Regions from separate parts of the Homo sapiens genome. Here region 2 is linked to region 1. The links come from fine-mapping of genetic effects on gene expression. A gene starts in region 1. The other region holds a variant in brackets. All regions are shown on one strand. Distances are from middle to middle.

Region 1 (16,391 bases):
ATTAAAAAGATCATTCATCATGACCAAGTGGGATTTTCCAAGGGATGCAAGGATGATTCAACATATGCAAATCAGTCAATGTGATATATCATGTCAACAGAATGAAATCATATGATCCTTCCAATTAATGCTGAAAAAGCATTTGATAAAGTTTAACATCCCTTCATGATAAAAACTGTCAAAAGACTAAGGATAGAAGGAACATACCTCAATATAATAAAAGCTGTATATGACAGACCTACAGCTTGTATCGAACTGAGAGCCTTTCCTCTTAGATCTGGAACCTGAAAAGATGCCCACTTTCACCACTGTTATTCAATATAGTACTGGAAGTCCTAGTTAGAGCAATCAGACAAGAAAAAGAAATAAAGCCATCCAAATTGGAAAGGAAAAAGTCAAATTATCTTTGCGTGCAGATGACATGATCTTACATTTGGAAAAACCTAAAGACTCCACCAAAAAACTATTAGAACTGATAAATTCAGTAAAGTCTCAAGATACAAAATCAACATACAAAAATCAGTAGCATTTCTATATGCCAACAGCAAGCAATCTGAAAAATAAATAAAAAAAAGTAATCCTATTTGCAATAACCACAAATTAAATACCAAGGAATTAACCAAAGAAATAAAAAATCTTGGCCGGGCACGGTGGCTCATGCCTGTAATCCCAGAACTTTGGGAGGCCGAGGCGGGTGGATCACAAGGTCAGGAGATCGAGACCACCCTGGCTAACACGGTGGTGGGCACCTGTAGTCCCAGCTACTTGGGAGGCTGAAGCAGGAGAATGGTGTGAACCCGGGAGGCGGAGCTTGTAGTCCGAGATCATGCCACTGCACTCCAGCCTGGGCAACAGAGTAAGACTCCATCTCAAAAAAAAAAAAAGAAAAAGAAATAAAAAATCTCTACAATGAAAACTATAAAACACTGATGAAAGAAATTGAAGAAAACATCAAAAAATAAAAAGATATTCCATGTTCATGGATTGGGAGAATCAATATTGTTAAAATGTCCATATTACCCAAAGCAATCTACAGATTCAATGCAATCTCTAAAATACCAGTAACATTCTTCACAGAAACATAAACAATCCTCAAATGTATATGAAAGCACAAAAGACCTAGAGTAGCCAAATCTATCCTGAGCAAAAAGAATAAAATGGGACAAATCACATTACCTGACTTCAAATTATACTACAGAGCTATAGTAACCAAAACAGCATGGTACTGTCATAAAAACACACAGAGAGAACAATGGAACACAACAGAGAATCCAGAAACAAATCCGCATACCTATGATGAATTCATTTTCGACAAAGCTGCCAAAGAACATACACTGGGAAAAAGAGTCTCTTCAATAAATGGTATTGGGGGAACTGGATATCCACATGCAAAAGAATGAAACTAGACCCCTATCTCTCACCATATGCAAAAATCAAATCAACATGGATTAAAGACTTAAATCTAAGACCTCAAACTATGAAACCACTATAAGAAAACTTTGGGGAAAATCTCCAGGACATTGGTCTGGGCAAAAATTTCTTTATTTTTTTTTTTAAAGATTCTTGTTTCCAGTGGGGTTGGAAAAAATTTCTTGAGTAATACTGCATGAATACAAGAAACCAAAGCAAAAATGGGCAAATGGGATCCCATCAAGTTAACAAGATTCTGCACAGCAAAGGAAACCATCAATAAAGTGAAGAGACAATCCACAGAATGGGAGAAAATATTTTCAAATTACCCATCTGATAAGGGATGAATAACTAGAATATATAAGGGGCTCAAACAACTCTATAGAAAAAAATCTAATAATCTGATTATATCTGGTTAAGGCCAGGTGCAGTGGCTCACACCTGTAATCCCAACTTTGGGAGGCTGAGGCAGGTGGATTGCTTAGTCCAGAGTTCCAGACCAGTCTGGGCAATATAGTGAGACCTCTTCTCATAAAAAATAATTTTTTTTTTAATTAACAGAGCATGGTGGCATGCATCCGCAATACTAGCTACTCAGGAGACTAAGGTGGGAGGATCGCTAGAGCCCAGCATTGAGGAGTAGCAGTTGCAGTGAGCCGAGATCGTACCACTGCACTCCAGTCTGGGTGACAGAATAACACCCTGTCTCAAAATAAATAAATAAATATTTAAAAAATAAAAGTTGGGCAAAATATTTAGACATTTCTCAAAAAAAGACATAAAAATGGTAAACAGGCATAAGAAGAGGTGCTCAACATAATTAATCAGAGAAATGCAAATCAAAATTACATGAGATATCATCTCATCCCAGTTAAAATGGCTTTTATGCAGAAGTCAGGCAATAACAAATGCTGGCAACAATGTGGAGAAAAGGGAACCCTTGTACACTATTGGTGGAAATGTAAATTAGTGCAACCACTATGGAGAACAGTTTGGAGGCGCCTCAGAAAACTAAATCTAGAACTACCATACAATCCAGCAATCCAACTACTGTGTATATACCCAAAAGAAAGTAAATCAACTGTGTGTGGTGGCTCATGCCTGTAATCCCAGCACTTTGGGAGGCTGAGGTGGGCAGATCATGAGGTCAGGAGTTTGAGACCAGCCTGGCCAATATGTGAAACCTTGTCTCTACTAAAAATACAAAAATTAGCCAGGCATGGTGGCCTGCACCTGTAGTCCCAGCTACTTGGGAGGCTGAGGCAGAAAAATTGCTTGAACCTGGGAGGCGGAGGTTACAGTGAGCCGAGATCACACCACTGCACTCCAGCATGGGCAACAGAGTGAGACTCTGTCTCAAAAAAAAGAAAAGAAAGTAAATCAGTGTATCATAGAGATATCTGCACTCCCATGTTTGTTGCAGCAGTGTTCACAATAGCTAAGATTTGGAAGCAACCCAAGTGTCCATCAACAGATGAATGGATAAAGAAAATGTGGTACTTATTCATGATGGAGTACTATTCAGTCATTAAAAATAATGAGATTCTGTCATTTGCAGCAACATGAATCAAACTGAAGGTCATTATGTTAAGTGAAATAAACCAGGCACAGAAAGACAAGCATCGCATGTTCTCACTGATTTGTGGGATCTAAAAACCAACCAATTGAACTCACAAAGATAGAGAGTAGAAGGATGATTACCAGAGGCTGGGAAGGACAGTGGGGGTTGGGGGAAGGTGGGGAGGGTAACGGGTACCGAAAAACTAGAAAGAATGAATAAGACCTAGTATTTGATAGAACAGGGTAAGTATAGTCAATAATAATTGAATTGTACATTTTAAAATAACTAAAAGTATACTTGGATTGTTTTAACACAAAGGATAAACGCTTGAGGGGATGGATACCCAACTTTCTGTGATGTGATTAGTACACATTATATGCCTGTATCAAAATCCCTCTGTACCCCCTAAATATATACACCTACTATGTACCGACAAATATTAACAAAAAAGAGGAAATAAAAGAAGAAAAAAGTCAGAAGTCTGAACTAGTTCCTTTGGTGTGATAATCTTGCTAACAACTTCTCCATCTTTTATTTTGTGAATAAAAGGAGTAGGCATACTCTAAACAAAGCCTCTTTTATTATTAAGTTCCTTCTCATATTTGGAAAAATCCTTAATTTAACAGTCAGGAATTAGGCAATATCATTAAAGTACTATTTTACATCCTGAAAACAAGGAATTATTTTTACTTTTTATTTAATTTAATTAATTTATTTATTTATTTGAGATGGAGCCTTGCTCTGTTGCCCAGGCTGGAGTGCAGTGGCGTGATCTCAGCTCACTGCAACCTCTGCTCCCTGGGTTCAAGCGATTCTCCGGCCTCAGCCTCCTGAGTAGCTGGGATTTCAGGCGCAGGCCACCATGACTGGCTAATTTTTTTATTTTTAGTAGTGACGGGGTTTTGCCACGTTGGCCAGGCCAGTCTGGAACTCCTGACCTCAGGTGATCCGCCCGCCTCGGCCTCTCGAAGTGTTAGGATTACAGGCGTGAGCCACTGTGCCCAGCCTATTTTTACTTTTTAAAAAATTGAACATATAAATATATTTTGAGGCGTGCTCTTGCTACGTTGCCCAGGCTGGTCACGAACTTCGGGGCTCAAGCAATCTTCCTGCTTCAGTCTCCAAAGCAGATAGGACAACAGGTAGGTGTACACCACCGCACCAGGCTCTGAACATTATTTTTAATTCATATGAAGCAAAATTCAAAAGGCAAAATAAATTACAAAGAGCAAAAATCTCCTTCCCACCCTGTCTCACAACCAAACAGTTCCTTTCCCCAAAGAAACCAAGGTTACCACTTTGTCTTTTCAAATACATGTTACACATACACAAGCAAATATGAATATATCTTCCACCTTTTTACACCAATAATAGAGTATATAAATTGTTCACAGCTTCATGGTATTGGATTTTATGGATGTACTATACCTTATTGAATCAGTCCCCTATTAATGGACATTTAATGTTGTTGTTGATCTAATCTACAAACAATGCTGCAGTTAACAATCTTGTACATACATCGTTTTACATGTGCACGAGTATATGTGAAGGAAAATTTTATTAAAATCGACGAATATTTCCAAAATGCCCCCAATAATATACCAATCTTGCATTCTTCTCTACAATGTGTGAGTCAGGGACAGTTTTAGATCAGGAAGGTATGACATGGAAGATGGGGACACGTTGTAAATTTAGAATGCTACCCACTTGGCTATGGTTTTAGTACCCTTAAGAATCAAAGGGCTAGGCGCTGTGGCTGACGCCTGTAATCCCAGCACTTTAGGAGGCCAAGGCGGGCGGATCACGAGGTCAGGAATTCGAGACCAGCCCGGCCAAGATGGCGAAACACCGTCTCTATTAAAAACACAAAAATTAGTCGGGCGTGGTGGTGTGCACCTGTACTCCCAGCTACTCGGAGAGGCTGAGGCAGGAGAATTGCTTGAACCCGGGAGGCGGAGGTTGCAGTGAGCTGAGATCGCGCCAGTGCACTCGAGCCTCGGCGACAGAGCAAGAGTCCGTCTCAAAAAAAAAAAAAAAAAAAAAAAAGAATCAAAGGGCTCACAGAGCATAATAGTATTACCAAACACAATTTGTCTAGACATTCAGATAAGCTGAACTAATTAAGCTTTTTGCCTTTTCAGTCACTAAGTGCACCAAAATAAATTAGAATTTCCTGAATCAATTAGAATTTCCTTAGAATCAATTCAGTGGTGATGACAGGGCCCATTATGATGCAGAGTATATACTGAGGTCTGTGGATCCTAAGGCTCAGAGGATTCTCGCCGCAGCGTTGTTCGGCCCGAAAAGGCCATTGTGGACAATGGACGTGAATAAATTTGAGGCCTCTGTGGGTTTTCTCGATGTCAAAAAGTTCCTCAGTACCTGGAAGGTAAAACATACTTGCTGCAATCAGATGCTTGGCATATTAAGCGTTGGAATTCTCTCTGCCTGCCCTGCCTAGTGAGCGGTAGGGAGGAACTCAGGCTCAGCCAATCGCCGAGCTGTAGATACATTCCCAGGCTCCCTGCCGGACCCCACAACATCCAGCCTTTTTTTTGTTTTTTCTTTTTTTTCTTTTTTCTTTTTTTTTTTTTTGAGACGGAGTCTTGCTCTGTCGCCCAGGCTGGAGTACAGTGGCGCGATCTCAGCTCACTGCAACCTCCGCCTCCCGGGTTCACGCCATTCTCCTGCCTCAGCTTCCCGAGTAGCTGGGACTACTGGCGCCCGCCACTACGCCCAGCCAATTTTTTTGTATTTTTAGTGGAGACGGGGTTTCACCGTGTTAGCCAGAATCGATCTCCTGACCTCGTGATCCACCCGTCTCGGCCTCCCAAAGTGCTGGGATTACAGGCGTGAGCCACCTCGCCTGGCCTTTTTTTTTTTTTTTTAAGAGACAGAGTCTCAGTCGGTCGCCCAGCCCGGAGTGCAATGGCGCGATCTCGGCTCAGCAACCTCCGCCTCCCAGGTTCTAGCGATTCTCCTGCATTAGCCTCCTGAGTAGTTGGGATTACAGGCGCGTGCCACAACGCCCGGCTAATTTTTTTGTATTTTCAGTAGAGATAGGGTTTCACCATGTTGGCCAGGCTGGTCTCGAACTCCTGACCTCAAGTAATACACCCGCCTCGGCCTCCCAAAGTGCCGGGATTACAGGCGTGAGCCACCACGCCTGGACATTTTTTTTTTTTTTTTTTTTTTACAGGGTCTCATTCTGTGGCCCAGGCTGGAGTGCAGTGGCGATCCTGGCTCACTGCAACCTCTGCTGCCTGGCTCAAGTGATCCTCCTGTCAGCCTCTCGAGTAGCTGGGACTACAGGCGCGGTGCGGGCTAATTTTTTTTTTTTTTTTTTTTTTGTAGAAACGGGGTTTTGCCGTGATCCCCAGGCGGGTCTGGAACTCCGGAGCTCAGGTAATTCGCTCGCCTCGGCCTGCCAAAGTGCCGGGATTATAGGCGTGAGCCACCATTCCCTGCCCACCCGACCTTTTTGTAATTCGGCTTCCTAGCAGCGTACAGAAGCCCCGCGCTAGGGTACAGACAGGTCACGTGACACCACCTCCTCACGTGACGCAGACTCTGGAGCGGGGGGAGGGCGGTGCTCCAGCTGCATTGCGTCATCACGTCGCGCGGCCGCAGGGGCCAGACCCGGACGGCTCCAGAGCCTCCAGAGCCTCCGGGTCTGGGCGGCGCTTCGGCTCCTCCCGAGCCGCCTGCTAGCCCCGCGCCGCACTCCATCCCCACAGGCTGGGGACGGGCCCGGTGCGGCTGTGTGGGTTCGGGAGCGGAGGTGAGTTGCGCGGAAGTGATGGCAGTCAGCCCTTCCCTTCCTGTCCGTCAACTCCGGGTTATGGCCCTACCCCCCATCCTTGGTCTCCCTGCAAGGCGGAATGGGAGACATGCCCAACAGAGGAGGAAGGCTGGCAGTGGGGTGGGGCATCTGGCCTCGGTCACCCTCTCAACTCTCCCCCTGAACTGCCCCTCTCCGATACCTCCACCTGGCGGTGGCGGCCATATGCCTGGTGGTATTAGGAGGAAGGACTTCGTTTCCTTCTCTAGAATTTAGTCTTTCCCGAGTTTACTACCCATTCCCTGCCCCGAATCTCCCGAAGTGGAATCCCTCCATTCAGATGTTAACGAAAGTTCTAGAAAATAGGTCACTTCAGAAGGGTGAGGATGAAGGATATGCTGAGACTTGGAGTGTTGAGGCAGGAATCCCCTAGAAGGAAGACCACTCTGCACCGGGGTACTGTCATTTTGACACGGAAACGATAAAAGACCCCCCGGGCTGTCTTCATAGTAAATGGACATTTGTTCTAGACCTTTTTACACCCCTAGAGTTGCAACTAAGTTGACTTAAGTCTTTTTGAAAAACATATGCTTTGATGAATCACCCGCTTTTCTGTAAAATGGGTCTTGCAGAGTTGTTGGAGGAATTATCTATAGTGCTTATAGAGTAAAATGCCAACTACAAACAGAAGTAGATGAGAATTTAGGATCTCATTTTTCCTGTTGAAAGATTAATTGTGACTTGTGGACTTTTGGAGACCACAGTTTGATTTCCTTCCCCCCGGATCATTTCAGAAAGTTTTGGATTCCAATATCGATTCTTTAACAGTAATGGACATTCACAGATGTAGAGTAGGAATACCCTCTTGTTGAAGAGCTTCAATATCTTAAGCAAGTGTAAGTCCATCGATAACTTGCGTGGTTTCCATTATTCAGTGTAGGTAATGGGTCCTCAATTGAAGTTTCTTTTTTTTTTTTTTTTTTTGAGACAGAGTCTCGCTCTGTTGCCCAGGCTGGAGTGCAGTGGTGTGATCTCGGCTCACTGCAACCTCCACCTCCTGGGTTCAAGTGATTCTCGGGCCTCAGCCTTCTTGGTAGCTAGGATTATAGGCGCGCATCACCACGCCTGGCTATTTTTTGTATTTTTAGTAGAGACTAGGTTTCACCATGTTGGCCAGGCTGCTCTCAAACTCCTGACCTCAACTGATCACCCACCTCAGCCTCCTAAAGTGCTGGGATTACAGGAGTGAGCTGTTGGGCCCGGCCTGAAGTTTCATTTTAAGAAGAAATCCAGATATGTTTGGAAGTCATCAGACATATCATTTGGATACTTCTTTAGAAAAAAGTTTATTTTTACTGAGTGGCCTTTCTTGCTCTAAGTTGAAGTTGAATACACACTTTTTCTTACATTAAATTCTAAACATTTATTGTGCAACTTCTAGGATAGAAAGCATACATATAAAGCAGGATCCTCTTTTTATGTATGCTCTAAATACTTATCTACTTAAGGACATTAAATAGTAATAATATAACACCTTTAAGAAATTTTATATTTTCGGTTTATCATTTGAGACAAGAACCTTGTCAAGATTTACAAGACATATATTGTTTATCTCTACTTACATTTCAGCATTGATCATATTAAATGTCAAGTGGTAGGGACACTCCGTGATAGAGGAATTCAGAGGAAGAAGAGAGAGCTTTTACATGGACTAGATAGTGGCTAGTGGTTGGTGGTGATGCCAGGCATAGGAGTGCCCTCAACTTGTGTATGTTTGGGTCTGAGGAAGCCTCTTAGGTTCTTAATTTGTAAAGCTAATTAAATATGTTCAGTTGCCCTAGTTCTTTGAATATGCTCATTGTTTTTTTTTCCCTCTTGTAGTTGCAGAATCCAAGGACCCATTTTGTTCTTTCTCCGCACTGCTTTATGGGAGGCATTATGGCCCCCAAAGACATAATGACAAATACTCATGCTAAATCCATCCTCAATTCAATGAACTCCCTCAGGAAGAGCAATACCCTCTGTGATGTGACATTGAGAGTAGAGCAGAAAGACTTCCCTGCCCATCGGATTGTGCTGGCTGCCTGTAGTGATTACTTCTGTGCCATGTTCACTAGTGAGGTAAGTGGTAAATTAGCCCCACACAAATGAAACCCGTGGAACTCTAGTTGTCTAATTTCACTGAATAAAATAGTGGAAGTTTGATATAATTTTGAATTTTTACAGTGTGATGTTTTGGCAGATTCTGGATAAGATCTACCACTTAGATGACTATGCCTTAGTTTCCTCATCTTTAAGTTAGGGATAATAGTAATATGTAACACATGGTTATTAAGGTTGTTGTGAAGATTATTTTATGAAATAACATAGGAAGTGCTTAGAATAGTGTAATATGTAGTAAAACACACATGTCAGCTATTGGATTTTACTATTTCTTAAATTTGTCTTCCAATTTTTCTCCTTTTTTTGTTTTTAATTTTATTTATTTATTTGTAGAGACAGGGTCTCACTATGTTGCCCACGCTGGTCTTGAACTCCTGGGCTCAAGCAATCCTCCTGCCTTGGCCTCCCAGAGTGGCCACACCTGGCATTACAGGTGTGAGCCACGGCATCCAGCCTTTTTTCCTTCTAAAGTTTAAAAATTTTTAAGTGAATACCAGAGGGATAAGGAGGAAGGAAGGAGAGAGGAGTAGGATTCAAACCACATCCCACTCCTCCTAACAATATGTGAAGAAAATCAGTGTAAATTTTAGGATAACTTCAAATGAAAGGAAGAAGAGTTTTTAATGAATAGCTGTACAGGCGTTGAGTGTATAACCTGAGAAAGGATGTTAACTCATAAGCACTTAACAAAGGGAATTAGGAAAAGGTTGGCTTGAGAGAATACAGGTAGTGCTCACAAAGTATTAAGAAACACTACTTAGTAATTGCCTGACAAAATACTTGAAATGTATAGTAAGGCTGCTGAATATATTGTGTTGAATATTCTTAGAAAGCTGAACAGAAAATAACATTGCAAATCTTTGTTTTTCAAGATCCCAAGTCTCATTTTAAGAGCAGATTTAAATAAATTATCTTGATTTATTTTTTCAAAGCTCAGTTGTGGGTGCATCACTGTTTATTATATAATTTACACTTACATGTATGCCTGAAATATTTCATTATGAAAACACTGTTTTAAAAGTCTTTTTAAGCACAAGTTTTTTGTTTGTTTTTTGTTTTTTTTTTAGTTAGTTCTATCATCTTAGTGTAGATATTGCTGCTGAATCAGAATGGGAGAGGCGTATTCTGTGATGGTAATAACTACCTTTTATGGGCCAGGTACTGTGCTAGTAATTGTTGTGCATATCTGACTCACCCTAGGGGTAGGTATTACCATCTCATTTTACAAATGAAGGAATAGGGTTTCAGATATTAAATCACTTGCCCAAAGTCCCATGGCTTGTAAGTGCTAGAGGTGGGATTTCATTTTATATTTTCCAACTCTAAAGCCCAAACAGTTTGTAACTCTTGTGCCGCCTTAGCCTCCGAAGTATGAATTTTATATACTACAATCTAATTTTAAAACTGGTATAGTTAAAAATACTATGAGCCAATGCTCAGTCACATGGCTAGTAGGGAAAACAGGAACCTGACAGGTCATTCCAACTAATTCAGGCTAATTTTTAAATAAACTTGTGTGATATACCAAGGCAGATCCCTGTCCTATACTGTTCTCCATGAGATATACCCAAGATCATCAGAAGCATTTGGAATTTAACTGGGTAAAGAGAGTGTCACCCAGCAGCTGCTGAGCAAGAAATGAACTAGAACGGCTGATTGCTAATTATATGTTGTGCATCCTGTTTTTTGTCAGCTTGAAAATAGTGTCTTTACTCTTTTGTTATTTGGAAATGAATTCTTTTTTTCTCATCAGTGATGATTTCTTTCTTTAAAAACTGACATCAGGCAAGGAAATGCTAGATGGTTTTGTCTTTATTTTTGAGAGTAATTGTTCAAAGGAGAGAGTCCAGAGACCTGGATTCTAGGCTTAGTTCTCTTAGCAATTCTGTATAAACCCTGGGAACCATCTAACTTCACTGGGTTGATCTGTAAAATAAAGTAGTTGAACTAGATGGTTTCCTTGTTCTCTTCAGCTATGAAATGCTCCTCAAATGTCATCTGATTGAAAGATCACAAAGACTGAGGCAGGAGGACCTGGGTTTTGTCTCTCTCTCTCTCTCTTTTTTTTTTCCTGAAATACTTTAATAAGAATGATATCTGTCTCTTACTAGCTAAGTGACTGGTTAAGTCTTGGATCTTCAGCTGGGCGTGGTGGCTCACGCCTGTAATCCCAGCACTTTGGGAGGCCGAAGCAGGTGGATCACGAGGTCAGGAGATCAAGACCATCCTGGCTAACACGGTGAAACCCCGTCTCTACTAAAAATACAAAAAATTAGCCGTGCGTGGTGGCGGGCGCCTGTAGTCCCAGCCACTCGGGAGGCTGAGGCAGGAGAATGGCGTGAACCCGGGAGGCGGAGCTGGCAGTGAGCCCAGATCACGCCACTGCACTCCAGCCTGGGTGACAGAGCGAGACTCTGTCTCAAAAAAAAAAAAAAGTCTTGGATCTTCTTTGATCTTTAGACCCTTTATCGCTCTCTCTTTTTTTTTTTTTCCTTGACGCCTGGCTAATTTTTTGTATTTTTAGTGGAGACGGGGTTTCACCATGTTAGCCAGGATGGTCTCGATATCCTGACCTTGTGATCCACCCACCTCGGCCTCCCAAAGTGCTGGGATTACAGGCTTGAGCCATGTGCCCGGCCCCCCTTTATCTCTTAGATAGTAATAATATCAGACCTAACTACCTTACCAGGTTGCTGTGAGAATCAGATGAAATAGTAGTAAATGAGAAGCATGCTGAAAAATTCTAAAGCAAAATATAACTGTAAAATGTATAATTGCTCTAAGTTCTTACATAGTGAAATTGTTTCCATATTTAAACTATTTGATGGAAATGTAGTTTATTGAATGAGAAATTTCTGGAATACATGTACTTACATATTTCAGTACCATAATTATTAAATGCATTTAATGTGTTGGGATAGTAATTGTTTATGAATATTAGTACTGTATTAAATGTTAATAAAACCTAATATGTTTTTTCAAAATAATGTGCTAGTGACTTTTTTAGTGTTAGGGATTGATTTTGTTCTTGGCTTTGGTAGAGAGTGCTTTTTGGTTATTCTCTGGCTGATGGAGAAATAAAAAACGTTAAAGCCATTTAGTTAATAATGGAGATGCACCAGAGTTTTTTAAGTAAAATGAATTTCTAAACTAAGATTAAGATCTAGTAAAATTTTCATAAGGTATTTTCAGATAGTTTCCTGTAAAATTGAAGATTTCTTCTCTTAGCTAAACAGTTTTCTATGATTATCTGGCCTCATCAATACTCATAGCTTCAAGAAGATATACTACTAACAATTTAGACTAAATATACTGCTAACAATTCAGTTAGTCTAACCCAATATTTTGAAAAAGTAACAAATAATTTATTTGTATTCAGATGATGTTACATAAGAAAGTCCCTTAGGATGACCTGCATGTTCTTTTTCGTCATTACTAAATGCAGTCTAAGGGCCGGGCATGGTGGCTCACGCCTGTAATCCCAGCATTTTGAGAGGCTGAGGTGGGCAGATCACTTGAGGTCAGGAGTTCAAGACCAGCCTGGCCAACATGGTGAAACCCCATCTCTACTAAAAACACAAAAATTAGCCAGGCATGGTGGCATGTGCCTGTAGTCCCAGCTACTCAGGCGGCTGAGGCAGGAGAATCGCTTGAACCTGGGAGGTGGAGCTTGAAGTGAGCCAAGATTACGCCACTGCACTCCAGCCTGGGCAACAGAGCAAGACTGTGTCAAAAAAAAAAAAAAAAATTAGCTGGTTGTAGTGGTGTACTCCTGTAATCCCAGCTACTTGGGAGGCTGAGGCACGAGAAACACTTGAACCTGGGAGGCAGAGGTTGCAGTGAGCTGAGATCACACCACTGCACTCCAGCCTGGGGAACAGAGCAAGACCCTATCTCAACAAAGGGGAAAAAAAAGTAGTCTAAGGACAGATGATAGGAACTAGGTAGTCCTGGAGAGACTGGAGTTATAACCCACAGGCTCCTCTACGAACATGAAATTTCTTTGAAATATTGTGTCTTATCTTAAAAGTTCACGGACCAGTGTTATGTTCATGGAACTTTTGCATTCTATTCTGTAAATACATCTGTATTTTAATATGAAATAGATTTTTAAAGTTATTCACTGGCAAAATTACTATTCCAGGAAGGTGTTACCTATTACTTATTCCTGGCGTATAGATAACTACCTACTTCATTTGGAAAGCTACAGATAATGTGCCATATTTGCTTTATTAAAATCCAACAAAATTGGCCGGGCGCGGTGGCTCACGCCTGTAATCCCAGCACTTTGGGAGGCTGAGGCAGGCGGATCACGAGGTGAGGAGATCGAGACCATCCTGGCTAACACGGTGAAACCCCGTCTCTACTAAAAGTACAAAAAATTAGCCGGGCGTGGTGGCGGGCGCCTGTAGTCCAAACTACTCGGGAGGCTGAGCCAGGAGAATGGCATGAACCCAGGAGGTGGAGCTTGCAGTGAGCCGAGATGGCACCACTGCACTCCAGCCTGGGAAACAGTGCAAGATTCCGTCTCAAAAAAAAAAAAAAAAAAAAAAAAATCCAACAAAATAGAGCATAATTTTATTTTTTTATTTTCTTTCTTTTTTATTTTTTTGAAATGGAGTCTCACTCTGGTGCCCAGGCTGGAGTGGAGTGGCACAATCTTGGCTCTCTGCAACCTTCGCCTCCTGGGTTGAAGCAATTCTCCTGCCTCAGCCTCCTGAGTAGCTGGGACTACAGGCATGTGCCACCATGCCCAACTAATTTTTGTATTTCTAGTGGAGACGGGGTTTCACTGTGTTGGCCAGGCTGGTCTTGAATTCCTGACCTCAGGTGATTTGCCTGCCTTAGCCTCTCAAAGTGCTGGGATTACAGGCATGAGCCACCACGCCTGGCCTGTAATTTTTAAAGATAAATGTTCAATTAATATTATTAACATCTCTAAGCTCTTAGATATGAGATTCTGCCTTTATCTTGTGGAATTATAACCATCATTCTTTTATACCTTTTGAATTTTCAGCTCTCAGAGAAGGGGAAACCTTATGTTGACATCCAAGGTTTGACTGCCTCTACCATGGAAATTTTATTGGACTTTGTGTACACAGAAACAGTACATGTGACAGTGGAGAATGTACAAGAACTGCTTCCTGCAGCCTGTCTGCTTCAGTTGAAAGGTACAGACATTAAAACTTGCTATTGTTTATGTCAAAATAGCCCTGGAAAGGTTGAAAATTAATAGTGTAAACTTAATCATGAACATTTTGGAGACAAACTATGGATGTTCATGTTTGCTGGCCATGGCTTTTGTCTCATTGAGCAATAAGAGATCAGATGTCAATAGCACTATAAAGGAACTTCTCCAGATATGAGTATTTGGCTCTATAAAAGAGAGCATTTGCACCTTTTCTGTTTTAAAAAAAAAATGGAGGAAGGAGAAATTATGTGTTTTCTTACATACATGTATGTAACACACCTATAAGGAAATATAATAAAAAAGTGATACTATACATAGCCTACATGGATACTCTTTATCTATCTGGCCATTAAGTGGTAGTATTTCATTAAGATACATGAAATTTAAATTGATGCACAAAATATTAAAGTATGATATTTTCACAGGATTACAGGTGGTTTGTTTTCCCTTACAATTCCCAGGTTTTTTGTTTTGTTTTTGAGACAGAGTCTCACTCTGTCACCCAGATTAGAGCACAGTGGTGCAATCACAGCTCACTGTATCCTTGAATTCTTGGGCTCAAGCAATTCTCACACCTCAGCCTCCTGAGTAGCTGGGACCACAGGTGCATGCCACCACACCCAGCTAATTAAAACAAAATTTTTTTGTGTGGAGATGAGTTCTCTCTATGTTGCTCAGGCTGGTCTCAAGCTCGTGGGCTCGAGTGATCCTCCCACCTTGCCTCCCAGAATGCTGGAATTATAGGCACGAGCCACCGTTCCTGGTCCCCAGTTTTTCTTTTTTAACATTCAGTTATGTTTTCAGTTTTTATATATACATAATTGACACACTTTTAGTTTTTAATACATGATTTAAACAGTGTGAAGCTTTTGCATTAGTGCATAGCCATAACATTAAAATACTCTGAACTTTTCAATTAGATAAATATGAGATTTGTTATTACTATCTTCTCCTTTTCTTTCACTCTAGTCTTTTAGTAAGTTTTCATGTAGAGTAGAAAATGGATACATTATGCTGAATTCGCAATTGGTTTTATAGTTTGATTCCCAAGAGTTTTATAGGCATTTTTGTTGAATTGTGCCAGGTCTCTGGATGTGATTCATCTTGCAATACTCATTTTAAAGATTAAGCAGAGACAGGTGTAAAGGTCTTGCTGAAAGTGGCACAGTACATAAGCCAGAAATAGAGTTTAAGTTCCTTAAGCATAGAATTTCTAATCTGTTTCTTAGGTGTTGAAACAAGGGTTCATCTGATAACATGTAGAGAAGATGCTGAGATACAAGAATATATCCTAGATCACACCTGTCCAACTATTCTAAAGTGTTTGCTGCCTGTGTCTGTCCTAGGTGTGAAACAAGCCTGCTGTGAGTTCTTAGAAAGTCAGTTGGACCCTTCTAATTGCCTGGGTATTAGGGATTTTGCTGAAACCCACAATTGTGTTGACCTGATGCAAGCAGCTGAGGTTTTTAGCCAGAAGCATTTTCCTGAAGTGGTACAGCATGAAGAGTTCATTCTTCTGAGTCAAGGAGAGGTGGAAAAGCTAATCAAGTGCGACGAAATTCAGGTACGGATTTGTCTTGATGTTATGGTTTCTTCAAGATTGGGCAATTACAAAACTTGCAAATAGGATGCAGTTACTTACCATCAGGGCTTCATAATTAAGTGTGCATTTTGGCTCAAAGATTTCATTAACCCCTCCTGTACCAAATTTATTTGCATTTTTATGGAGAGGGAGTTTGCCACTTTCTTCAATTAGATATATGATCCCAGTGGGTAAGAATCACTATTCAACAGAGTATAGAATAAGCAGAAATTGGAAGTAAAGTAGGTATCTGTAGACCACTTCTCTATTACCCGTTCACTCATTTCACAAACATTTATTGAGAATATCTACTATGTAGCACTTAACTATGCCAGGTGCTACAGATCCCCAAGTGGGTAAATATAGTTCTTGCTTTCAGAAAATTCACAACCTGCTAGTAGAGACAGAGATATAGACAAAAAAAATGTTATAAAGAGGATCATGAGAATAGTGAGCCTATACAAAGTAAGGACATTACATAGAAGAAAGAAGAATAAACCTTTGCTCAGGAGTGGATCAGAAATGAAGAGACAAAAGTTTGGAAGTGAGGATCTACAGAAGCAGGAGCCAAATCATAACTGTCTTGTGAGGATGCAGCGGTTGGAAGGGAGGGACACATGAACTGGATGTTAAAGGAATAGTAGGCCAGGTGCAGTGGCCTATGCCTGTAATCCCAGCACTTTGGGAGGCTGAGGCAGAACTG
Region 2 (16,391 bases), 45 kb before region 1:
CATTTAAAGGGTTAACTCCTAATTCTTCACAAGAATACCATCTAGCCACTGCCTACGTCTGCCAGCTCATTGCTACTGGCCATCCTACACTCTACTCACTTCCTGGAATACCATTTTTCCCTTTATTCTTTGACAAATTACAAGGCTCAAAGAGGCATGGAGAACTTGGACTTGATTCAGACCACGTCCTTAGCAAAGACTGATCAAGGCACAGCACCACTCAAAATAAGGGGTAGTGGGCAGGAAAACGAAGATTAAAAAAACAATTAGAAAAAAGAAAGAAAGAAACAATCAATCTCAATAATTTCCAGGGCTCTTTCTGTGCCCATGGAAGGCACTAATTCTCTCCAGATATTGGCTCCTCACCCCAGCCTCTACCATGGCAAGAAAGCAGATGCTGAAAAACAGATGCTGAAACTTGGGCTGTTTTAAACAACAAAGAGTGGCAAAGAACAGAGCAAAAGCAAAAATAAAATGAGACCATAAAGAAGTGTTTGAGTTGGCTTCCCCACTTCCACTCTACCATCGCCCTACATATACCTTCTTCCAAGCCTCCCTGCATTCCATTGTTCCAGGGTCCTTTTTTCAACCGTGGTTCTCAATCAGGAGCAATTTCCCCCCCTGGGGACATTTGGCAATGTCTGGAGATATTTTTGGTTGTCACAGCTAGAAGATACTATTGACATCTAGTGCAATAGCTGGGGATGCTGCTGTGAACAGAGAATAAATCTCAGGACCCCAAAATCACTAAGCCAAAGGGAAAAGTCAAGCTGGGAACTGTGTCAGTCAGACAAACCTGCCTCCCTCCTTTTTTTTTTTTTTTTTTTTTTTTTTGACCGAGTTTTTCCTCTTGTTGCCCAGGCTGGAGTGCAGTGGCACAATCTCGGCTCACTGCAACCTCTGCCCCCCAGGTTCAAGCAATTCTCCTGTTTTAGCCTCCCAGGTAGCTGGGATTACGGGTCCCCACCACCAGGCCCAGCTAATTTTTGTATTTTCAGTAGAGACGGAGTTTCACCATGTTGGCCAGGCTGGTCTTGAACCCCTGACCCCAGGCAATCCACCCGCCTCAGCCTCCCTAAGTGCTGGGATTATAGGCAGGAGCCACCGTACCCAGCCCTGCCTCCCATTTTATTCCTAAATAAGATAGCTACAAAGATTTTTGTTTTTTGAAGCTACATACTTTCCTCACAATTTGCCTGCAAGGAAATTCCTTGTGGGCCTCAGGATCTTTACCCTAAAACAGTTCTGTTGAATTTCACCTTGGCAAAGTACATTGATAGCTTCTCTTCACAGGTGCGGGACAAAGAACTCAAACTCATCCTGCTCACCTGAGACAAATGCGCATCTGATGGCTCCCTCTGCCTTCTTGTTTATGTAAAAATGCAGATTCATTGAGCCAAATTAAGGCATAAGTGATCATTCCTCTACCCCCACCTCACATGTAAATTGCATATTCAGTGAAAAGCTGATTGAAGACTCAAAATAATGCAACCATTTGTCTCTTATCTACCTATGACTTGGAAGCCCCTGCTTCAAGTTGTCCTGCCTTTCCAGACCAAACCAAAGTACATCTTACATGTATTGATTGATGTCTCATGTCTCCCTAAAATGTATAAAACCAAGCTGTGTTCTGACCACCTTGGGACATGTAGTCGGGACCTCCTGAGGCTGTGTCACAGGTGCATCCCTAACCTTGGCAAAATAAACTTTCTAAGTTGATCGAGACCTGTCTTGGATACTTTTCGTTCATACTGCTAAGCAAACTATAATGGGCAGAACAGCCCTTGACAACAAAGAATTGACCAGCCCAAAATGTCAGTAGCACCAAGGTTGAGAAACCCTGCTCTTTGATAAATCAGCAACAGCTTTCGTGACAGGGTGAGACCACATTTAAACAATTGTACTACAAGCAGAGAGTGTTCAAATGATGCAAGGAGAGAATAGATTTTTCAAACAGCAGATAGGTCAAAAGAAATTATTTCTACCACAAAAGGCAAAACCACTAGTTTGACGAATAAGTCATGGTACATAAAACATGTCTGGAGAAATATCTATAAGGGACAGAATTCATGAATGTAAAGTCTTTACATTTAGATTTGTGTTTGGTCAATAATATAAGGTTTTACTTGGGATTTATAGTGTAAAAATAATCTGAATCCTTGAAAGGATTATACCTATATTTTATAAATCTATGAACTTCTCTCTCAGACTCCCTCCAACCAAGATTTTACCTCTACCACTCAACCAAACTTGTTCTTGTCACGATTTCTAATGACTTCCTGATTGCACAATTTGCAATTTGTCACCATATAAAGCCATGAGATTAGCAAGGACGGAGCCCTGGATCATTTCAACATTAAGAGGTAGAGCAGATGAAGGGGGACCAAGAAAAGAGAGTGGGAAAGGGTAGATACAGAGGTAGGAGGAAAACCATTGAGTGTACTGTGAAGACAGTGCTTCAAAAGCAGGTAATAATTAGCTGGATCAAAGGCTGCTGATCGGTCAGGTTCAATGAGGCATGATCATAGATCACTGGAGATTAAAAAAAAAAAATAGCAACAAAAGGATTATAATGAAAAACTGCCCCAGCTGGGCACGGTGGCTCATGCCTGTAATCCCAGCACTTTGGGAGGCCGAGGCAGGCGGATCACCTGAGGTTGGGGGTTAGAGACCAGCCTGACCAGCATGGAGAAACCCTATCTCTACTAAAAATACAAAATTAGCCAGGTGGCACATGCCTGTAATCCCAGCTACTCAGGAGGCTGAGGCAGGAGAATCGCTTGAACCTGGGAGGCGGAGGTTGCAGTGAGCCGACATCACGCCACTGCACTCCAGCCTGGGCGACAAGAGCGAAACTCTGTAGAAAGACAGAAAAGAAAGAAAGAAAGAAAGAAAAAAGGAAGGAAGGAAGGGAGAAAGGAAGAGAGAAAGAGAGAAAGGAAGGGAGGAAGGAAGGAAGGAAGGAGGGGGGGAGGGAAGGAAGGAAGGAAGGAAAGAGGAAAAGAGGGAAGGAGGGAAGGAGGGAAGGAAGGGAGGAAGGGGAGAGAAAGAGAAAAACAGCCCCACCTCCCTTGGCCCTAGTTCTGTTCCCTAAACATAACTATAAGGCTTTCTACTATTTCTTCTAGTGTTGCATCCATCTTTCTAAATAACATACTTAAACTGCCATTTTAAAATGTTTGTTTTATAGACAATTCCTTGTCATGTTAGGACATGTCCTTTTATCCAAGTCAACAAATATCCATTTATCTTTCTCCTATTCTTTCTTTTCTTTTCTTTTCTTTCTTTTTTTTTTTTTTTTTTTTTAAGACAGAGTTTTACTCTGTCACCCAGGCTGGAGGGCAGTGGCACAATCTCAGCTTACTGCAACCTCCACCTCCTGGGTTCAAGCGATTCTTGTGCCTCAGCCTCCCGAGTAGCTGGGATTACAGGCACCCACCACTATGCCTGGCTAATTTTTGTACTTTTAGTAGAGACGAGGTTTTACCATGTTGGCCAGGCTGGTCTCAAACTCCTGGCCTCAAGTGATCCACCTGCCTTGGCCTCCCAACGTGTTGGGATTACAGGTGTAAGCCACCTCACCCAGCCCCATTCTTTCAATATAGTTAAATCAATGATTACATTATGATGCTTTTGTAAAATATTCACTGCTGAACAAGTAGTTGTGGGACAATTCTCCAAAGAATTTGTACATCTCAGACTATCTTTTCCAGGATGTTTGGGCAGCAAACAGCCTTAGAAGCTAAAGGTAGTGTCTTCCTTTTGCAGAGGGCAGATTTGTTTATTAAGACAGTGACTCCCTCTGGGAGAAATTTAGAGGCATGGTCCTCCAGCCATATTAAGGAATACTAAGATCTCCCCACTTCTCCCTCCCCAGAGATTTCTTTGCTAACCAGAAAAATAAAGATAATGTCTCCCTGTGGGGCAAAGATTGGGTAGGCTTGCTAGTGGTCCCCTTATAAGACTGGGGGTTTCCTAAGCATAGCATTTCTCAGCTATGAGACAGATGCACTGTGCGCTCAGCATCCACCCAGGCCCACTCAACATTGCTACCGCTCACCAAGTTCCCTCTTGGAACTTTCAGGGAAAGGGGAACTGTTAAGCCCATGCTGCCTGCTGTGCCATGGGTGCTAAAGGACCCACTGTTTCCTTACCGACTGGATTTATGGAGATGTGGCAAGTCAGTCTAGAAGCTTCACTGTGTTTGGGAATTGTTTGACCTCTTGATTAAGCAGTAGTGATCTGTGATTATATTTTATGTGTAATATTTTTCCTAGAGCAAATAATTGCCTCTTTTATTATTTGCATTATCCTAGCCACTTGAGGTTCATCGGTAAACAGACCAAGTTTGTAACCCTCATGGAGCTTACATACTAAAGCGGGAGACAGACAATGAAGATAAACAAGTGTGAAGCAGAAGAATTGCAGGGTTTCGAGTGAAGGGTTTGGCATGATCTGGCTGAAGTTATAAAAGTAATACTCTGCCTACTATGTAGAGACTAGATTACAGAGGAACAAGGATGGAAACAGGGCCAATGAGGATGCTTCTGCAGGAATCCAGGCAAGAAAAGATGATGGTTTAGACCAGAGTGGTGGCAATGGAAGTGGTGAAAACAGCCAAATGTTGAATATATTTTGAAGACGAAACCAAAAGAATTTTCCGAAAATTGGTTGTAAGCATTGAGAAGAGGAGTAAGGATAACTGCAAAGTTTTTGTCCAAACTACTGGAAGGATGGAGTTGCCATCCACTGAAATGGGAAGGCTTCTTTGCATGTCATTTAAGGAAATTTGATAATTTTCTCATAAGAGTTCTGTACCTCCTTTGTTATTTTTATTTCCTGGGTACTTTGTATTTTCTGTTGATATTAAACTATCAATGTATATTTAATAATTATGGTGAAATGGACTTCATTCTATTTTAGCTTCATCTTATATCTAGCAATTTTCTTCAAGTTTCTTATTGTTTATAACTAAATGTTGTGCCAAAACTTAAGTATAAGTCTAACAAAACATCTACAGAATGTGTATGTTGAAAATTATTAGATACTAATGAAAGAAATTTTAAAAGACCTAAAGAAATGGAAACATTACATTCATGGATCTGAAAACTTAACATAATAAAGATCTCATTCTCTTCTATACTGATGTATAGATTTAACACAGTTCCAATTGAAATCCCAGCAGAATTCTTTTGGAATTGAGATTAGACAAGCTAATCTCAATCTATATAGAAAGGCAAAGAACCAGAATAGTTAAAACAATGTTGGAAAAGAAGAATAAAGTTGGAGTAATCACACTATCTAATTTCAAGACCTACTATAAAGCTACAGGAATCAAGACAGTATGGTATTCATGAAGGGACAGACACATAGTTCAATATAACAGAACACAGAAATCATAAATAGACCCACAAAAATATACCAACTGATTTTTGAGGAGAGTGCAAAAGCAGCTCAGTGGAGAAAGGATAGTCTTTTCTACAAAAGAAGCTGGAACAAAAGAACATCTGTATACAAAAATAAACAAACCATAACCTAAACCTTATACTTCATGCAAAATAAAATTTAAAATAGATCATGGATAGAAATGTAAACCACAAAGCTATACAACTTTTAGAAGAAAATATAGGATAAAATCTTTATAACTTGGGGTTAGGCAAAGTGTTCTCCGATGTGACACTTTAAATGTGCAGCATGCTGCATTTAAAGAATTGATAGATTGGACCAGCCTAGTCAACATAGTGAAACCCTGTCTCTACTAAAAATACAAAAATTAGCTGGGTATAGTGGCGCATGCCTGTAGTCCCAGCTACTCGGGAGGCTGAGGAAGGAGAATCACTTGAACCCGGGAGGCGGAGGTTGCAGTGAGCCAAGATCGTGCCACTGCACTCCAGCTTGGACAACAGAGAGAGACTTCATCTAAAAAAAAAAATTTGATAAATTGGACTTCAACAAAACTGAAAACCTTCTCAGTGCAAAAGACACTTTAAGACAATGGAAAGACAAGCTACAGGCTGAAATAAAATATTTGCAATATCCAACAAGGAGTTTTGTATTCAGAATATATAAAGAACTCTCAGCCGGGCGTGGTGGCTCATGTCTATAATCCTGGCACTTTGGGAGGCCGAAGCGGGCGGATCACTTCAGGTCAGGAGTTTGAGACTGGCCTGGCCAGCATGGTGAAACCCCATCTCTACTAAAAATACAAAAATTAGCTGGGCATGGTGGCGGGCACCTGTAATTCCAGCTAACTTGGGAGGCTGAGGCCGGAGAATCGCTTGAACCCTGGAGGCAGAGGTTGCAGCAAGCTGAGACTGTGCCATTGCACTCCAGCCTGGGCGACAAGAGCGAAACTCCATCTCAAGAGAAAAAAAAAAAAAGAGCCCTCACAACTCAAGTGGAAGAAAACAATCCAATTAAAACTGGGCAAAATACTTGAACAGACACTTCACCAAAGATGATATATAGATGGCAAATAAGAACATGTTTATTATCATCAACCATTACATAAATGCAAATTAAAATCATAATGAGGATAGCATGGTGGCTCATGTCTGTAATCCCAACACTCTAGGAGGCCAAGGCGGGAGGATCACTTGAGCCCAGGAGTTCAAGATCAGCCTGGGCAATAAAGTGAAAGCTCGTATTTACAAAACTTTTAAAAAAATTAGCCAGGAGTGGTGGCACTTGCTTGTGGTCTCAGCTACTCAGGGAGGTTCAGGTAGAAGAATCGCTGGAGCCTGGGAGGTTGAGGCTGCAGTGAGCCGTGATCATACCACTGCACTCCAGCTTGGTGACAGAGGAGACTCTATCTCAAAAAAACAAAAAAAAAAAAGTAAAATCACAATGAGATACCTCTTCATGCCTATTAGAATGGCCAAAATCAAAAGTGCTGACAATACCAATTGCTAATGAAAATGCCGCAGCAATTGGAATTCTCATCCATTGCTAGTGGGAAGGCAAAATGGTATAATCACCTTGAAAAACAGTTTGGCAGCTTTTTATATAAAGTTAAATATACACCTTCCATGTGATCCGGAAATCACACTTGTGGATATTTCAGAGAAATAAAAACTAGGTTCACATGGAAATCTGCACATGAATGTTTAAAGCAATTTCAATCATCACCAAAAATTGGAAATAACTCAAATGTCCTTCAGCTGATGAATGGATAAACAAATTATGATACAGCCATACAACAGAATACTACTAGCAATGAAAAGAATGGACTGTAAATACACATGATAACTTGGATGAATCTCAAACTATGCTGAGTGAAAGAAATCCACTCAAAAGCTTACATATTGTATAGACTTTATTTATGTGACATTCATAAAGAGGCAAAAGTGTATTGACAGGGAACACATCAGTGATAACCAGGAGTTAAAGGTAAGGGGAGGATGTGGCCATAAAGGGATAGCATATGGGAGATTTGCAGGGTGATCAAACTGGTCTATTTCCTGATTATAGTGGTGCCACAAATCTATACATATTCTAGAATTCACAGAACTGTATGCCCAAGAGTCTATTTTAATGTATGACAATTACAAATTTAAAATGAGACAGCTGGGGCCAGGCGCAGTGGCTCATGCCTGTAATTCCAGCACTTTGGGAGGCCGAGCCGGGTGGATCACAATGTCAGGAGTTCAAGAACAGTCTGGCCAAGATGGTGAAACCCCTTCTCTACTAAAAATACAAAAATTAGCCAGGCGCCATGGCGGGCGCTGTGGAAGTCGCCTATAATCCCAGCTACTCAGGAGGCTGAGGCAGGAGAATCTCTTGAACCCGGGAGGCAGAGGTTGCAGTGAGCCGAGATCGTGCCACTGCACTCCAGCCTGGGTGACAGAGTGAGACTCCATCTCAAAAAAAAAAAAAAAAAAAAAAGGCCGGGCACGGCGGCTCATCCCTGTAATCCCAGCACTTTGGGAGGCCGAGGAGGATGGATCACAAGGTCAGGAGATTGAGACTATCCTGGCTAACACAGTGAAACCCCGTCTCTACTAAAAATACAAAAAATTAGCCAGGCGTGGTGGCGGGCGCCTGTAGTCCCAGCTACTCGGGAGGCTGAGGCAGGAGAATGGCGTGAACCTGGGAGGTGGAGCTGGTAGTGAGCCAAGATCATGCCACTGCACTCCAGCCTAGGCGACAGAGTGAGACTCCATCTCAAAAAAAAAAAAAAAAAAAAGAGACAGGTGGAACTTTGAACACTGACTAGCTATCTGATGAAACTAAGTAATTGTTGTTAATTATTTTTACATGTGATAATGGTATTATGGTTATTTTTAAGTCCTTAGCTTTTAAAGATACACACTAAAATATTTAAGGACAAAGTTATAAAAAATATGGGATTTGCTTAAAAATAATACTGGAGGAAGGAACGGACTGGGGAAGAAATGAAAGAAAGGTGACCATGATTTAATAATTGTTGAAGAGGGTGATGGGTACGTCGGGCTTTATTATACTGTTCTGTCTACTTTTGTATATGTTTGATAGTTTCCATACTAAAAAGTTCAGCCAGGCACGGTGGCTTACGCCTGTAATCCCAGCACTTTGGGAGGCTGAGGCAGGCGGATCACGAAGTTAGGAGTTTGAGACCAGCCTGGCCAACATGGTGAAACCTCGTCTCTACTAAAAGTACAAAAATTAGCCGGGGATGGTGGCGCATGCCTGTAATCCCAGCTACTCAGGAGGCTGAGGCAGAAGAATCACTTGAACCTGGGAGGCAGAGGTTGCAGTGAGTCGAGATTGCGCCACTGCACTCCAGCCTGGGTGACAGAGCAAGACTCCGTCTCAAAAAAAAAAGAAAAGTTCAAAAAGGGTGTGAGGTTGTTAGTTTTCAACATCAAGCTGCCTGGTATGCAGTCTGAGTTTGCCATTTAGTAGGTGATCTTGGGCAAGTGACTTACTTGTCCTAAACTTCAGTTTCCCCCCACTCCATAAAATGAGACTACTAATGATAATATCTATCTCACAGTTGTTGTCAGGATTAAATGGATGTTGTCAGAATACGTGAAAAGCAATTTACCTAGTTCTTGCTATATTGCACATGCTCAATAAATGTTAATTTTTTTGTCATTATTACATCTCCTGGTCTGATTCCTCCATGCCATCTCCTCAGTATGAGCAAGTCTTCCTCCAAGCTTCTTTCTGGATATCTTATCTAAAAAGGGCCACTGAGTTTTACATCCTAATTCAGAATTATAAAACACAGGTTTGAAATTCTACTTCCCCCTCACACTACATTATATATATATATTTTTTTAAACAGGGTCTTGCTCTATTGCCCAGGCTGGAGTGCAGTGGCGCAATCATGGCTCACTGCAGCGTTGATCTCCCAGGCTCAAGCAATACCCCCACCTCAGCCTCCTTAGTATCTAGGACTACAGGCCAGCGCCATCGCACTTGGCTAATTTTTGTATTTTTGTAAAGACAGGATTTTGCCATGTTGCCCAGGCTGGTCTCAAACTCCTGGGCTCAAGTGATCCATCCAGCCTCCCAAAGTGATGGGATTACAGGCGTGAACCCAGCCTGTTCTATTCTTTATTGTATACCCAGGAGGAAATCCTAAACTTAAAAGATTGGGTTAAATAAAAATTCAGAAATGCCTATCTTTTCCTCCAAACTAGGAGTAATGTAAGATTACCATGAGTCGTGGTGGAGTGGAGTTCAATTCACCACAGAATCTGAGACAGGAAGACCTGCCAGGCCATCAGCCCCTTCCCACCACTCCTGCAGCATTCATTTTCAGGAGCAAAAGAGCCTTCCCACAATTACTGAGTCCAACACTTAGTTTCCAGGATAAGCCCACACCCAACCATTCTGTCCTGTGGTTCCCAGTGATACACTCACACTTGTTAGAATGTGCCACTTTGGGGTTCAGAAAATGCAATCACTGAGAGAAGCCCGAGTTGTAGTTATGCTCTCCTTTCGTTCCATACTTCCCCCTCTCTTGCCACATCTATCCACTAGAGGGAGGAAGGCCTAGAACCTCTTTAGCCAGAGTGGAGCAGTGGCAAGGATCAGTAGTGTGGCTTCTTAACCAAGCCAGCAGTGGGGATGTCAGAAGCACCGGAACATAATCGCCTCATTCTCTCGGAACAGAAAAGAGGAAGGGTCCCTTCCTTCCCCTTTTCAACCCTCTCTGCATGGATTGGCATGTCACCATGATCTGGTGCACTCA[C/T]TTCCCTCAAGTCAGTGTGCAGGCTGCTTAAAAAATTCAGAGGAACATGTACTGGGGTCTTAGGAACATTTTCAGCCAGTGGAGAGGAAAAGGAAAACTAAGTATCTCTTGGATCATTCACAGAGTTCACCAAATACAACTGAAAACTGGGGGCTCTAATGTCCCTGCTGCCCTGATGGTATTAGTTTAAGATGTTGACACTGACATCTGCAGAGATCTCATCCATCACGGTATATCAAAGAGCAAATGTCATTCTAGTTGAGAAACTCATGTATGAGAAAGAATGGTCATCTTGGGAAATCTGTAGCTCCAGCGGCTCCTGATGTTTTTTCCTGCCTCCTCCTGTCCCATGCTTGTGCCCCAGGCAGAGCTCATTCCTAAAACCATAGCTGACCCTCTGTGCTGTCTTTTAAGTTATAATAGTAGCTGCCAACTGTTGAATATTTTGCTTTATGACAGGCACTACACTAAGCACGTTAACATATCTCACTGAAGCCTCACACCAAAGCTATGAACTAGATACAATCTATCTGTAGATAATAATATATATCCATCTGTAGATATCCATCTTATATCCATCTGTAGATGAAGAAACTCAGGTTGAGTAAGCTATCTAAGGTCACAGAGCCAATAAGTGCTAGAGGCAAGATTCTTATTCTGTACACTCTGCCTCCAAAGCCCACTTCTTTGACCCTAAGGGCACAAGAACCCAAATCAGGATGTGAAGCTTGGTCTTTGAAACCAAAGGAAGCTCCTGAATCATCCTGATAGGCTGACGGCTTGGCGCTGTAAACAAAATCAGTCTTTTGTCAAAAGGAAATGAAGTTGCCATGCCACTGTTCACTCCTGTAAGAGACTCCTCTGGGCTGTTCCATTCTCTTGCTGCAATTCAGCCGGTTGAAAAACTAAGGTGACTGCACAATGATTAACTTCAGGCCCTTCTGCTCTACTTTGAGCCTGTCTCTGGTTCATCGTTACACTCTCCGCTCAGCACCCGCAGACTCAAGAGATTTCCAATCCCCCAATTTAGCGTGGTTCTACCTTAGGCAGAACTCCCATCCAGTTCGGATATAAGCGGGTCGAAGTGGCAGGGACCACCTCGCTGGGAGGAGAGGCTGGAGCTGCGGTCTTAAAAGATCTTGGGGCCGGGCGCGATGGCTCACGCCTGTAATCCCAACACGTTGGGAGGCCGAAGCGGGTAGATTATTTGAGCCCTGGAGCTCGAGACCACCCTGACCAACACGGTGAAACCCAGTCTGTACTAAAAATACAAAAAAAAAATTAGCCGGGCGTGGTGGCGCACGCCAGTAGTCCCAGATACTCGGGAGGCGGAGCCAGGAGAACCACTTGAAACTGGGAGGCGGAGGTTGCAGTAACCGAGATCGCGCCACTGCACTCCAGCCTGGGCGACAGAGCGAGGCTCCGACTCAAAAAAAAAAAAAAAAGTATTGAATAAGCACCGGAGACCCTGAGCCACCGAGTAGCGGAGGGAAAGGGTGGCGCGCAGAGGGGCCCAGCCCCGCCTCTGCCGGACCCCGCCCCCAAAAGGCCCCGCCGCCGCCACCTCCTGCTAGGCCCCGCCCCCGACAGACACCCCCCCCCCCCCCCGCCAGGCCCCGCCTCCTGCCCCCCCAGCCGCGAGGTCCTGCCTCCTGCCCGGCCCCGCCCCCGGCCTGCCCCGCCCTCCGACCCGCCCCGCGGCGCATTGTGGGATCTGTCGGCTTGTCAGGTGGTGGAGGAAAAGGCGCTCCGTCATGGGGATCCAGACGGTAAGACCCTCATTCAGTATCCTCCACTGGGGGACCCCTCCCCATCTGGTTCTGGCCACTCAGCTCCGGACCAGGGGCTGTCGCTGCCGACCCCGCCCCGCAGGGCTCTGGGCCCACCGTGGATGCTGGGGTCCCGATCCCGCACATCCGGGCTCGGGACTCCGCCAGGTTACCCCTCTGCCCTTGGCATGCCTCCGCGCTGGAGCTCGGGATCGCCACCCCTGGGACGGTCACCACCCAAGCCCCGGGCTCTTACCCAGCCTGGCGGTCACGCTGCCTCCTCTACCCACAGAGCCCCGTCCTGCTGGCCTCCCTGGGGGTGGGGCTGGTCACTCTGCTCGGCCTGGCTGTGGGCTCCTACTTGGTTCGGAGGTCCCGCCGGCCTCAGGTCACTCTCCTGGACCCCAATGAAAAGTACCTGCTACGACTGCTAGACAAGACGGTAAGTTGGGGAAGAAAGGGCCAGGGTGAAGGAGGGGACCAGAGTGCTCCTGGCATGGAGGGTACAGCACCCACGGTGGTTGGGATGTCCAAGGGACGTGGCAGCGCCAGGCGCGCTTGGTGAAACACTTGTGTCCTCCACCCTCCAGACTGTGAGCCACAACACCAAGAGGTTCCGCTTTGCCCTGCCCACCGCCCACCACACTCTGGGGCTGCCTGTGGGTAAGGAAAGTGTGGAATGGGCTCCTTTCCCTGGTATCCTCAGAAGGTGACTCCCCTCCTGGGATCTCATGAAACACGCTGCTTCAACCGGTTTGCTCCACACACCATTCCCCTTCCCCCACTTGGCTCTGCATCCTCCAAGCTGTGAGGTGCCACTGGGCCCCTCTAGAGTGTGGCTTCCATGACCCCCATCCAGCTTTAACACTCAACAGTCTTGCCTCTTCCCTGCAGGATTTGCTAATTACTCCCTCTGAGCAAGCACTACTAACTTTTTCCCATTGCCCAGACCCTTTTGGCTCATCTGTCAAGGTCCTGGCAGTAACTGGCAGGAAACGCTGGAAATAAGTGTTTCCTCAACTGGGCGCTTATAAGAGATCCAACTGAGGGCTCAATGGGGCAAATCTTCCCTGCCTTGTAGCTCCTTGGGACCACAGCAGGAAGCAAGACATCTTGTTCTCTCAAATCTCTTTGAGTATTTTGAGGGATGCAGCACATCACAGACAACCCTTATGTAGCTCTCTGCACGGTCCCCAGGCAAACATATCTACCTCTCCACCCGAATTGATGGCAGCCTGGTCATCAGGCCATACACTCCTGTCACCAGTGATGAGGATCAAGGCTATGTGGATCTTGTCATCAAGGTAAGGGGCTAGGAAGGGACCCAGGGGCTGCTTACCCATTCTTTCTGGGATTTGTAGAAATTTCTAAGATTTGCCTGACAGCAGGAAATGGTATGTACTCTGTGGATGTGAAGAAAGTATGAGCTACTCAGGAGACTGAGGCAGGAGACTCACTTGAACCCAGGAGGCGGAGGTTGCAGTGAGCCAAGATTGCGCCACTGCACTCAAGCCTGGGCAGCAAGAGCAAAACTCTGACTCAAAAAAAAAAAAGAAAGAAAGAAAGTATGTAGACGGGGAAAAGATAGCACATATCTGATCCCTGCCCCAGCCTCAGGGAGGTTTAGTCAACATGGGGCTCAGAAACCAGTGACATTCCAAATAAGGTATTTTTCTCTCTGTCTTGTAAGGTCTACCTGAAGGGTGTGCACCCCAAATTTCCTGAGGGAGGGAAGATGTCTCAGTACCTGGATAGCCTGAAGGTTGGGGATGTGGTGGAGTTTCGGGGGCCAAGCGGGTTGCTCACTTACACTGGAAAAGGTAATGACCTGTCTTCTCCTTGAGCCTGTCTCCCACTTTATCAGTTCCCATAGTCCTCTTGGCACAGTATGGCTGTGTGTACACATGTGTATGCACGTAAGGGCCAGGGCCGCCCTTCCTTCTAAACATAGCGCTGATACAATAGAAAGGCATGTTTCTCAGCCCCATTTGCCACAGGAAGCAGTTCCTCCTCCACTTGAATTCCCTAGCCATGGCAGCTGTGGAGATTACTAAAGCAAACATGTGCCCCTCTTCCCCACCTTCAAAAATTTGCCCCCCTGGGTGAGCTGTGGAGTGAGCCAGAGATAGCTTTCAGCCCTTCCCATGGGAACAGCTGGGTGCATTAGCAAGTCCCTGGAGCTGCTGTGTGCCACTTGGGAAAATAGATTCACACCTGGCTCTGTGCCTGTCTCCTTCACCAGGGAGTGACACTTTGCCAGAAGCAGCTGATACATTGTGTGGCGCTGAACTGACTCACAGATAGCCCTGGCCCCATTGTCCCTCAACTATATTATTGTCAGGGCTGGCTCAACTCAAGCTTCCACCCAAGCTCCAGGATCAGATGTCATAGCAGCTGCTCAACTGGCCTCAGGCATATTTTCAACTCTGCATTTGTTTTCTAAGTTCGCTGTATTGACTTTATTCTTCCACTGCTCTCTTCACCTGACCTCTCAGGGCATTTTAACATTCAGCCCAACAAGAAATCTCCACCAGAACCCCGAGTGGCGAAGAAACTGGGAATGATTGCCGGCGGGACAGGTGCATTACACTGAGGGCCTTTCTCTCCCACCATTGTTGACTGTTGCCATGCAAATTCCTAGGTGACCCTCTGAAGACTGGTAACCATAGCCAAGCTGTTGTTCATCAGGGGATTTCCAGCAATGCTTAGAACTCCCTAGTATCTGAAAAACAAAATCATAAGCAGGTAGAAACCAAAAAAAATTTTAACTGATGGAATTAGAGAAACAAATTAAATGAGCTTTCCTCATTTTGAATGGATCTAATAGTTTTAGGTGAGAGAAGAGAGAAGCAGCTAGGAATGACTAGCTAGGAAGAAAGAAAATTAGCATTGGACACTACTGTGCATTAGACACTGTGTAGTCTAATACACTACTATATATTAGACACAAAAATTAGACACATATATAGGTATCTATGAAGTAGGTACTAGCCTTTTCCTTTTACAGAGAGACAATGGGGTTCCAGAGAGGCTAAATGATTTCCACAGGGTTATTTCACTGGTAATGGCCTGGAGCAAAATTAGTATTTGGCTCTGCCTAGTGCCTAAGTACATGCACTTAACCTCTGCAAATACAGTGTTCTAGAACCCTCATCATTGAATCCGGAGGTACTTGTAGTCATTTGTGACACTGGAGTCCTAGCCTCCAAAGGACTTTCAGAAGAGTCTTAGATTAGTTCCTAAGAAAGATTTCTACAATATGAACTTAGATGAATTTGAAGGGTGCCCGGAAATACAGATGTTGGAGAATATGCAGGAAGAGTTTAGAGGATGAGAATGCTAAAGGAAAATGGAGTGGAGTGGTGAATGAGCAGAATGAAGATGAAAGGGCTGGTCAGCTAAGGAGCCAGGACAGGGCAGAGAGTGTGGCCACTACATTTCACTGTGGGGTATCTTCATGCAGGAATCACCCCAATGCTACAGCTGATCCGGGCCATCCTGAAAGTCCCTGAAGATCCAACCCAGTGCTTTCTGCTTTTTGCCAACCAGGTTGGTTTGTTTTCCTCCACCCTAAGACTTCAAAGTTGCTGTGTGGGTAGGGCTGAGAGACGTGGTATGGATGGGCAGAACTGGCCCAGTGCCCTGTTTTAGCCTCTGCCCAAGGTCCCCTCTGTAAGGCACAGGGTCCTCTTTCAATAAGGAGGAAAAGGACAGAGCACTGAATCAAATTCCTTCCCTGGTCCCCAAGGAAAGAAGAAAACTTTTAAGGTATCTAGTCTGGAGCACAGAAACTTAGATCTTCTTGGTTAAATATTCATCTTTGTTCCTTCATAATGTGTAGATAAAGGCTGTTCCCCTCTTCTCCTCATCCTAACTCCCTAAAAGCACTGCAAGTCTTGCTTATTTCCTAGAACTTTTGCTTTCCCTTAACATTCTTTTTCTTAGTTGGAAAGTTGTATAGCAGAAAACTTTTTATGTGGGCCTGAGAAGACTCCTAAAGACTTTCCTTCCCCTTTGCATTTCAGACAGAAAAGGATATCATCTTGCGGGAGGACTTAGAGGAACTGCAGGCCCGCTATCCCAATCGCTTTAAGCTCTGGTTCACTCTGGATCATCCCCCAAAAGGTATCCTTCCCATTTCTGGACATCCCACTATCCCCTCATCGTCAAAATCAAAGCCTTGCCCCTTTGTGAATTCTGGCTTCATTGAAATCAACCTTGCCTCACACTGCCAACTCGGAAGTCTGAGTGCACAGACACAGTGATCTCCTGGTCCCTTTCCTTTGGGTTCCTGTTTACCAGGTGGGTGACAGGGATGGCGGTGCTGCTAAGGCTCAGCTTGAGGCAGGCTGAGTATACCCATTCCCAGCTGCTGCTACCACTTGACACTTTCTCCAGAGCCTTTCAGGGCCCTCCCCAGTCTCATGGCACCACACCCCCTT

The links.
Region 2: its variant is fine-mapped to the expression of KLHL12 in whole blood (TOPMed, PIP above 0.99).

What each region holds. Positions count from the first base shown.
Region 1 is chr1:202,917,450-202,933,840 of GRCh38, reverse strand. KLHL12 (kelch like family member 12) reads left to right here and starts at 6,607. Exons shown (of 12, transcript NM_021633.4): 1 at 6,607-6,752; 2 at 8,634-8,873; 3 at 13,933-14,086; 4 at 15,453-15,670. The coding sequence starts at 8,679. RefSeq lists enhancers at 4,337-4,836, 4,837-5,338, 6,415-6,464.
Region 2 is chr1:202,962,749-202,979,139 of GRCh38, reverse strand. It overlaps CYB5R1 (cytochrome b5 reductase 1), which reads left to right and starts at 11,883. Exons shown (of 9, transcript NM_016243.3): 1 at 11,883-11,949; 2 at 12,242-12,391; 3 at 12,540-12,612; 4 at 13,147-13,253; 5 at 13,640-13,769; 6 at 14,445-14,528; 7 at 15,413-15,498; 8 at 15,975-16,074. The coding sequence starts at 11,935. RefSeq lists silencers at 10,785-11,079, 11,696-11,855, 11,926-11,975. The variant C/T (reference allele first, on the strand shown) is at 10,181.